Linked DNA regions of Homo sapiens: region 1 is linked to region 2. Evidence: fine-mapped expression QTL. Tissue or cell type: transverse colon. Region 2 holds a variant in brackets; the other region holds the start of a gene. All regions are shown on one strand. Distances are between the middles of the regions.

Evidence for each region. PIP is the estimated chance that this variant, and not a neighbour inherited with it, causes the effect.
Region 1: ZNF736 starts here. The variant in region 2 is fine-mapped to the expression of ZNF736 in transverse colon (GTEx, PIP above 0.99). The same link has a PIP of 0.9 or more in spleen.

The regions. Positions count from the first base shown.
Region 1 is chr7:64,311,125-64,316,274 of GRCh38, reverse strand. ZNF736 (zinc finger protein 736) reads right to left here and starts at 2,314. Exons shown (of 4, transcript NM_001170905.3): 1 at 2,122-2,314. The coding sequence starts at 2,124. RefSeq lists an enhancer at 2,082-2,261.
Region 2 is chr7:64,611,601-64,616,750 of GRCh38, reverse strand. It overlaps LOC100128885 (a long non-coding RNA gene), which reads right to left. Exons shown (of 3, transcript NR_077227.1): 3 at 1-2,252. Among named protein-coding and RNA genes, the nearest start is that of ZNF680, 51 kb to the right of the region's middle. The variant C/A (reference allele first, on the strand shown) is at 2,642.

The DNA of each region.
Region 1 (5,150 bases), 300 kb after region 2:
AGAGGAAGGGTGAATCAGGAAACTGCTCTCAGCACGAGGGCATCCAGCTGCTCCCCTGAGAGGCTCCACCCAATGCCTCAGGCTCTTCTCTGAAAGGAGATGACCCAGGGGCTAATGTTTGCTAGACACTCCAAGAGATATGGTCCTTGTGGGTATCTTGGATCATCCCCAGAAAGCTGTAATACTTGGACCAGGAAAACACAGGAGAGTGACTGAGGACACATCACCCTGCAAAGGATCCAAAGACATTCTGGGAAGGCGCGCGTGCCTAGAGAAGATGAGAGGAGATGCGCAGTGTCAGGTGACTACTCTTTGCTTTTCTGTCCTGTGAAATATGCACAAACAGACTAATATATTAAAAAGAGCCACCCACGGCTCTGTTAAACAAAAATAAACAAAATGCCACATCCGTTTTAAAATTAAATAAAGAACTGATAGTTCATAATGTGATTTGGAGAGGGATAGTTGGCATTTGGGAATGTGGGAAAGAAATTGGAAATTTAGAATTTTATACAGTCCCTAGAACAGTTAGGCTGGGAGAACAGTTTTAGATTTGAGACCCTGCTTGCCAAACATTTGAAAAATGCAGAGAAAACCAACGACCCTGTGGAGCATTAAAATAATTAAATAGCTAGCAATTAGGCTGAAGTGGCCATGGTGCCCTGGGATTCTGCCTAAGGAAACCTAACTACGTCGAAGGAATTTCTGGTAAATTATTAACTTTGAGAAACAACAACAACAACAACAAAACAACTTAGGCTTAACCAACCACAAGCTGCCAATAAAAAGCTCTAATTACATAACCAGGACATTTCCACCGGAGGGCTGCAAATGCAATACGTAACTGTAACCAATCAAATATTGAATCTGGTTTGCTTCCTCATACCTCTTAAAAAAAAAAAACAACCTTTTGTTCCAAGACCCTCCTTTGAGCCCCCAAACAACAAATCATAGCTGGGTGTTCTCTGATTGATAAATTACTGTTTGTGCAAGTAAACTATTTGTATTAATCGCTTCTGGCATTACTATAAATACCTCAGACTGGGTAATTTATAAGAGGATTAATTGGCTCATGGTTCCACAGGCTGCATAGAAAGCATAACACCAGCGTCTGCTTCTGGGGAGGCCCCACCCAGAAAGCTTAAAATCATGGATGAAGGTGAAGCAAGAGCTTGAAAAAGAGGCAAGGTGGGGTGCTGTACACTTCTAAATGATGAACTTCAGGGAACTCACTCACTATTGAGAGGACAATACCAAGAGGAATGGTGCTAAACTATTCGTGAGAAATCCGGGCCCACAATCCTTCCACCAGGCCCCACCTCCAACATGGGGGATTACATTTAAATAGGAGATTTGGGCTGGAAAACACATCCAAATTATATCCTAAAGTTGCCTCAATTTAGGCTAGGGTGGTGGGTCATGCACGTAATCCCGGCACTTTAGGAGGCCCGAGGCGGGCGGATCACCTGAGACCTGAGCTCGGGGAGTTCGAGACCAGCCTGAGCAACATGGCAAAAGCCTGTCTCTACAAAAACAAACAAAACAAAATAGGCGTGGTGGCGCACCCCTCTAGTCCTAGCTACTTGGGGGGCTGGGGTGAGAGGATCATCTGAGCCCAGTAGGTGGAGGCTGCAGTGAACCGAAATGCACTTTAGCCTGGGCAACAGAGTGAGACACTGTCTCAAAAATAAATAAATTTAAAAAAGGGCCATGATTTTATTTTTAAAAGGAGAAAGGAGGGACTAGGGACCCCACGGCCCACTGCTTCTTCCACGGAGGAACTCCAGACCCTAAATGAGAATTCCCGTCTTATGACACTCCCAACACCCCCACACAATCTGGAGGAGGGAGACTCGAGGTTGCGGCACAGAGCTGCCCAGGAAGGGATCTGAGCTGGGGAGAAATTCGAGTTTAGGGACAAAACAAGACGTAGCGTTTTGGCTGCTGGCTCAGCCCCTAATCTGCGATGGAGGGAAATGAGGATTGAGCTGTGCCCGCGGGGACTCGGGGATGCAGACTCCAGAGCAGACCGCGAGAAGGCCCAGATACCACCGCAGCCGGTTCCGGCCGGATTCAAACAGCCTCTTCCCCATTCTCGGGACACCCACTCCACGCACTCACCATTTCCCAGCCTCCAGATGTTCCGCCGTCCTCCCTATGGATCTCCCAGTACCTGCAGGTCACAGGATAACAGAAGCTATAGTAGAGTCACCGAGGAACTCCAGGAACGGAGGAGATGGAACAGTGGAGACGCGAACTAGGATCAGAGCCCGGAAGCTAGGAGACAAAGGCCCCGCCATATTGAAGAGGCCGCCTCTTCCTCTGTAGCTGCGCACTTGATTGGACAGTTTCACGCTGGCGCCACTGATTGGCTAGGGCTCCAGGCCCCACCCGTTTCAATCCTAAGTGACAGAAGATGTAATCAGACACTGGGCTGAATGAGGCAAGGGTGACAGGTTTTTGCCTGCAGCGTTTTCAGGCGAGTCCTCCCTGTGCTGGGGGCCTGGCCCTGCCTGAGAGACATTTGTATTTAACCTTGCATATAAGATTATATCACTTTCTGATTATATTTTCGTGTGTGTGTATATATTACATTCTGAATTATAGTTATGTGTATGCTGCAGGCCCTGTCTCAGCATCCTGTCTTTCCCTTTAGCTGCAGGAGATCAAAGTCCTCCAGGAGATGCAGCTGCTTCAGCTGGCTGTAGACAATTATCACCTTCAGTCTGTGAAGCAATTTTGGGTCTGCTTCCAATTAATGGAGTGTCTCAGTGAGACTGAGAGGTGAGGGCCTAGCAGATTGGTTAGAGGTGCCACTCGCCCAGGCCTCCCAAAACACCCTGTCTCTTTCCCACCAAAGCTGAGCCTGCCTGAGGACCTAAACAAGCATGGAGAACCAAGATGGGACCCTAGTCAGGGATAGTGCTGGGCTGTGGGGTAAAGTCAGCTAGGTCAGGGCCTCCAGGTGTGGGGAGGAGCCGGCCTCTTCTGTAGAGCCCTGGGCAAGTCACTGCCCTCTTTGGGCCTCTGTTTTCTTATCTAAAAAATGTAGGGATGATGAGCCTCACAGGGTAATGAGGAGCTTCAAAGGAGAAAAATTTGAGAGTGCTTGTGCCTGGCTCTTCCTGAGAGAGATGATGATGAGAACAATGGTGACGGCTACATATAACTGAGTCCTCACGAGGCCCAGTGAGGTAGGTGTGGTTCCCATCACACTTTCAAGTTGAGAAACAGTCTCAGGGAGGCCTGGCTGCATGCCCAAGGTTCCACACACAGTGAGTGTTGCAGCAGGGAGTGAATCTAGAATCAGAGTTTACTGGAGGTGGCAGGAGCACTGGACCAGCTTGACTCACACCAGTTATCCAGGGTACCAGGTCAATGTAACTGGGCATAACTGGGTGAAGGGAGCATAATATCACTGACCTTGTCCTTGACCCTGGCAGAGGAAGACACCCAAGTTGGCCACCCTAGAGAAGAAACCACAGAAAGCCCAGATGAGGCTAAAGCAGCAAAAAGGCAGGTACCTGTGATGGGGAAGAGCTCCAGGGATTCAGAGGGAAGAGCTCCTCCCTCCCAGCTGGAGGCCTCCACATCAAAAGAGCAAGGGGCCTTTCTCCCTCAGCCCTTCCCTCCTGTGGCAACAGTCCCTGAAATGCCTCTATAAGAGAAATCAGAGTAAAGGCCTGGAAGAGCTGGGCTGAGTGGATTTGGGAAACGGTGGAGCTAGGGACCACATAACATTGTGACTTGTTAAAATCTCACCACAGAGTTAATAAGGGAGTGCTTCATGTTTTTGGAGGCCAGCTAGGAAGAGGGGAGAGAGTTGGAGAGAGGCAGCTGCGTGTCTTTGGCTTTTTCAAGTAAAAGATGTGGATAGGAGAGTCCAGGAGATGGGGGCTTATGAGATTTCAGGGACAGGCCTTGAATGGACACCCAAAAGTGGATACTCATCCCCATCACCACCTGATAGCACAGGGTGTTGCTGACTTTCACCTCCCCACTCTCTCCCAATGTTGCCCCAGCTGCTCACCTTCCTTTTCTTTCTGGGTGTTACATTTCCCTAGAAGTCAGCCAATGGTCATCAGAAAGGCCCCTTGGACCCTGACTAGGTCCCCTCCCCACACTCTTCATACTGCATTACTGCCAGGGCCACCAGGGGCAGGGGATGTGCACAAAGCAGGACTTGGGTCTGCAGCAGGTTCTGGGGTTCAAAGGGGACAATGGGAGCTGAGGCTCAGGGACCTCCCACCCCAACTCTCTTTGATGACAGACATAAAAACTGAGGGCTCCCATTTAAAAAAGTGCTCAGCCAGGCCAGGCACGGTGGCTCACACCTGTAATCCCAGTACTTTGGGAGGCTGAGGATGGTGGATCACCAGGTCAGGAGTTCAAGACCAGCCTGGCCAAGATGGCAAAACCCCGTCTCTACTAAAAATACAAGAATTAGCTGGGCGTGGTTGTGGGCACCTGTAATCCCAGCTACTAAGGAGGCTGAGGCAGAGAATTGCTTGAACCTGGGAGGCGGAGTTTGCAGTGAGCCAAGATCATGCCACTGCACTCCAGCCTGGGTGACAGAGGAGGCTCCATCTCAAAAAAAACCAAAAAACAAAAAACAAAAGTGCTCAGCCACATACGAGCTGCCTGCCCTTGGAGAGGCCTAAGTTTACTATCCTTCCATTGGCACCATCTGAGGGAGAGTCTGAGTCCAGCTCAGGCAAAACCTCACTGGGCTTTGCAAGCAGACAGCTCTGCAGCTTCATCACTCAGGGAACAGGGACTGGTGGCTGGTGTGGAATCTTCAACATTCATAGGGAAGAGGGGCCTGATACCTCAGCTCACAGAGGCAGCCGTGACGCTCTCATGAGAGGAAGTTTGCCAAGTGCTGAGATCTAAGGGTGTAGTCCTGATTCTCTTCTCCCAAGCCTCAGGATTCTGGTTCCAGCCCTGCCCATCCCAGGCTCACTCCCATCCATATAATCCTTTCTGGCAGGGTTTCCCATCACCAGATAACTGGAAAATGTGTCCAGGATGGAGGCAACACCCTGTGCTGTCGGGTGGTGATGGGGATGACTACTCACTTTTGGGTGTCCCTTCGAGGCCTGTCCCCTGAAATCTCATAATCCCCTGTCTCCTGGACCCTCCTATCCGCA
Region 2 (5,150 bases):
CTATAATCATATCTGTGTTCTTAACCCCAGGTATAAGAGTCAACATCTCCCTAATTTTCTGTGTCTAGATAGGAGAGCCCTCACCTTTCTATGAGCTGCATTTAAAAATGTTTTACTATCCCATATCTGGCTGGATGTTCACATATGACAATTCCAAATGTGGACTGCATCCATATGTGAGATTACAAGTAGGGTCTGTCCGTCTGTGAGAATTACAATTTTAATGGATAGTAGGGTGTGCATACACACAAGTAAATCTCACCTGTGCACTGGGCTCTGCAATGACACACTGTGTACAACCTGAAGACTTTATACCATATGTGAGAGTGTGATACTCCTTTCTGACCTTTATAAAAACAGAAGACCCAGAATCTTATCCATTTTTCTAAGCCTAGCTATGAGAGACTGTATCAACTATTGGCTGGTTCAATATATGAGAGTCATCATCACACCTATGAGCTGGAACAACATTATGTGTAACAAATCCACGTGCAGGTAGGTAATAAGCAGGGGAGTCACATCACCCGGGTGCTGGGCCAAAGATTTGTACAATATTACTTGAGGGCAGGGACCGGGAAGGATAGTAACATCCCTTGGCTGCTGAGCCCAGAGATATGTTACAATGCTCCCTGTGGGCAGGGTTCAGGCAAGAGAGACACATCACCTGGTTGCTAGGTCCAGCAATATGTCACAATCTTCCCTGTAAGCAGGGTGCAAATGGAAGACAATAGTCACATTTCCTAGGTAATGAATGCTGAGATGTCACAAGGCCTTCTGTGAGCAAAGCCCACTCATGTGCCTCCCATCCATCCCCTATATCACAATACCCAAATATGTGAGCCCCAGGCAAAATAGGAGTCACCTCACCTAGGTTCTGGGTCCAGTGATACATTATAATCCTCTTTTTGGCAAGGCCCAGGCAAAAGAGGCACAAAAGAGAAATGGCAGGGGATGAATGAAAAAATATTTCATATCTCCATGGACAGAGCCCATGCAGAAGAGTCACATCAACTAGGTGATGGACCCAGACATATGTTTCATATACTATGTGAACAGGGCCCAAGCATAAGAGAGTTACATCATCTAAGTGCTGGGAATATTGATACATCATAGTCGCTTCTTGGGCAGAGTCTAAGTAGTGGAGGACAGTCATACCACCTATGGGCTGGGTCCAGAAATATGTCTTGATACTTCCTGAGGGGAGAGCCCAGGCAGTATTATCACATCACCTGGGTGCTGGAACAGAGATATGTCATGGTCTTCTCTGAAAGCAAGGACCAGGCAGGAGGCTCATGTCACATTTGGCCAGTGATAAGTCACAATTCCTTTCTAAAAGCAGGGCTTGGGCAGTAGTCACATCACCTAGTTTCTGAGACCAGGTGTCACAGGGGGCTCCACAGGGAGCATTGTAACATATCACTGGGCTCAGAAACCAGCTGTCACAATACTTCTGGTGGGCTAGGCCCAGGCTGGAGACACATCACCTAGTTGTTGTGTTATGTCACCATCTTCCCTGTGGGCAGGTGCAGGCAGAAGAGATGAGAGACGTATGCCCTATGTGATGGATACAGAGTAATGTCAGAAAGCTGCCTGTAGTCAGGGCTGAAGCAAAAATGTCTCATTTCCTAGGTGTTGGGCCCAGCAATATGTCACAATACCAAAAACATGCAAGGTCCAGGCAAAAGAGGAGAGTCACATCACTTAAGTGCTGGGTTCAGTGATAAGTCACTATCATTCTTTCTGGCAGGGCCCAGGCAGAAGTGAGTCACATCACCTAGATGACTAAAAAAATGTGTCATAATACCCCTGTGGGCAGGGTCCATGCAGGACAGTCACATGACCTAGACATTATTCCCAGCCGTATGTCACAAAAACAATGAATGTAGAGCCCCGGCAGGAGAGTCACATAGCCTTGGTGCTGGGTCCAGTGATACATCACAGTTTTTTATTGGGCAGAGTCCAAGCTGTAGAGAGAGTCATATCACCTAGTTGCTGTGTGTGACAATATATAATAATACTCCCTGAGAAGTGGGCTCAAGCAGGAGATTCACATCACTTAGGTGAGAGGTTCAGAGATATGTCACAATGCCCCCAGGTGAGTAGCAGTCAGGAAGAAAAGTTACATAAACTAGGGCCAGAGCCCAGCTATATGTCACAATTACCGCAGTGGGGAGCACTCAGGTATGACAGGAGAGTCACATCACATAGGAGCTGGGCCAAGCAATATGTAGCAATCTGCGCTGCAGACAAGTCTGAAAAAAGAAAGGTCACATCAACTAGGTGATGAATCAGAAATACAGCAAAATGATTCCTGTGGGCAAAGACCGAGCAGAAGAAATTACACCACGTATGTGATGAGCTTAGTAATACATCACTCTCTTTCCTTGGGCATGGTCCAAGCAAAAGAAAAGTCACATTACCTAGCTGTTAGGCCCAGAGTTATGTCACAATCTCTTTTACAACAGAAGCCCAGGTAAAAGGAGAGTCACATCAAATAGATGATGGTCCCAGAAGTATGTCACAATGCCTCTTGTTAGCAGGGTCCAGGCATACCAACTCACATCACCTTGGTGCTGGGTTCAGCAATATGTCACAATGCTTTCTGAGAGCAAGGCCAAAGCAAAAGGGCAACATCACCTTG[C/A]TGTTGGGCCCAGTGATATGTCACAATGTTCCTTGTGGGCAAAACCTAGAAAGAGTCACATCAGCTAGGTGCTGGGCCTAGCAATCTGTTTTGATACACCCTGTAAGGAGAAACCAGGCAGAAACTGTCTTATTAACTGTGTGATGAGCAGAAAGATATGTCACAATGCTCTCTGTAAGCAGGGCCTAGGCAAGAGAATTATATCACCTGGGTGTGGACCCAGCAATATGTCACAACAGCCCGTGTGGGCAAGGCACTGGCAGGAGAGCCACATAACCTGGGTGTTGGGTGCAGCAATATGTCACAGGGTTCCCAGTGGGCAGTGCCAAGGCAGGAGAATAGATTTACATTAGTTAGGTCCTGGGTTCAGCAATGTTTCACAATCCAATCTGTGGGCTGAGCCCAGGCAGAAGAATTCAATCACTCAGGTGCTGGGCAGAGGCATATGTCACAATCACAGCTGCAGGAATGTTCATAAATGAGATTAACAATCCTGCACATGTCCAGGTTCCAGGTATGAGAATCAACACCTCTTTTATGTTGGGCCTAAGTACATGATTCACAATCTCAACAGTGGACTAGATCCATGGACGAGAGCCTCAATTCCTCTCACAGACTGTTTTCTTAGTGGAGTCACAGTCTTTCAGGTGTACTGAATCTTGGTCTGAGTGTCAATAACCCACCTGTGGACTGAAATAAACGATGAGACAATTGTTCAACTTTTGGCACTTTTTTTTTATTGTGGGGTTCAGAATCTCAACAATGTGTTGTGTTCATGTGGGAGGGTGACAATCATTACTGTTGGCTGGGTGTGCTTATGAGTGTCACAATCTCACCTGTGTCCTGAGGTCTATTAGAACATTCTCTGTCCTACTTGAGGGCTTTGTACTGTATGCATGGGAGTGCAATCTTGTCTGAGACCTTCATGCTGGTATGGACCCATGATTGTACTTGTGGCCCTAAGCCCAGGTATGAGAGTCAACATGTCTCCAATTGGCTGAGTCCAGAAAGAAGATGCCTTACCTGCCTAGGAGCTGGGTTTAGAAATGTTTCACCATTTCAACTCTGGCTGAATGTTCACATATGACAGTCACAATTTCAACTATGGACTGTGTTTGTGAGATTAAGAACCTCATTAGTGAGTTCCATCCATGTGGGAGGTTGACAATACTAAGGGTTTTTAGGGTGAGCATATGAGAAACACAACCTTACCTGTGTGCTAGGCTCTGTAATGACACTTTCTGTACCATTCAAGACCTTTACACAATATGCAAGAGAATGGCATTTACAATCTTTATAAAGCGGAGGCCCATGAACTCACCTATTTGCCTAAGCCTTGCTAAGAGACACAGGATCTCTGCTATTGGCTGGTTCAAGGTATGAGACTTATGCCATCTGTGAGCTAGGCCAAGATAAATGTGACAATTACACCCGTGGATAGGGAATGATAAGTAGAGTCACGTCACCTGTTTTTTGGAGCCAGGAATATGTCAAAATCTTCCTGGAGGCCAGGGACTAGGCAGGAGAGTCACATTACCTGTTTGCTGGGCCCGGGAATATATCACACTGCTTTCTGTCAGCCAGGCCCAGGCAGGAGAGACACATCACCTGGTTGCTAGGCTCAGTAATATGTCACAATTTTCTCTGTTGGCAAGGTGCAGGCAGAAGAGGAGAGACACATTTCCTAGGTGATGGATAAAGAGATATGTCACAAGGCCCCATGTGAGCAGGGCCCAGGTGGTACTCCCATTCCCTACATGTTGGGCCCAGCGATATGTCAGAATACCCAGAATACACAGGGCCCAGGCAATAGAAAAATGTCACATTACCTAGGTACTGGCCCAGCAATACACCACAATTTTTTTTTTTTTTTTTTTTGCCAGAGCCTAAGCAGTAGAGGAGAGTCACATCACCTAGTTTCTAGGTCCAGCAATATGTTACCGGACATGGCCCAGGCAAAAAAGTAAAATTATTTATGTGAAAGACCCAGAGATATGCTACATTGTCATCTGTGTGTAGGGCTAAGAGAGAAGAAAAGTGTTACATAACCTAGGTCCTGCTCATGCCACCTGTTTCACAATCACCCCAAATGACAGGGCCCAGTCATGACAGTCACATCACATAGGTTCTGGACCAAGTGATATGTCACAATATTCTCTCTGTACAGTTTACAGGAAGAAGACAGTCACGTAATCTAGCTGATGGGCTTAGAGATATGTCAAAATAACCCCTGTGGGCAGGGACCAGACAGGATTACCTCACCTGTGTGCTGGGTTTGGCAATAAGCCATCTTTCTTCTGTGGGCATGACCCTGTCAGAAGAGAGTCACATCACCTAGGTTTTGGTCCCAGAGATATGTCACATTTTTTCTTATGGGCAAAGCCCAGGTAAGATAGGAGAGTCACATCAAATAGTTGATGAAGTCAGAAGTATGTCACAATGCCCTCTGTGAGCAGGGCTCAGGCAGGAGACTCACATCACCTGGGTGCTGGGCCCAGCAATATGTCAC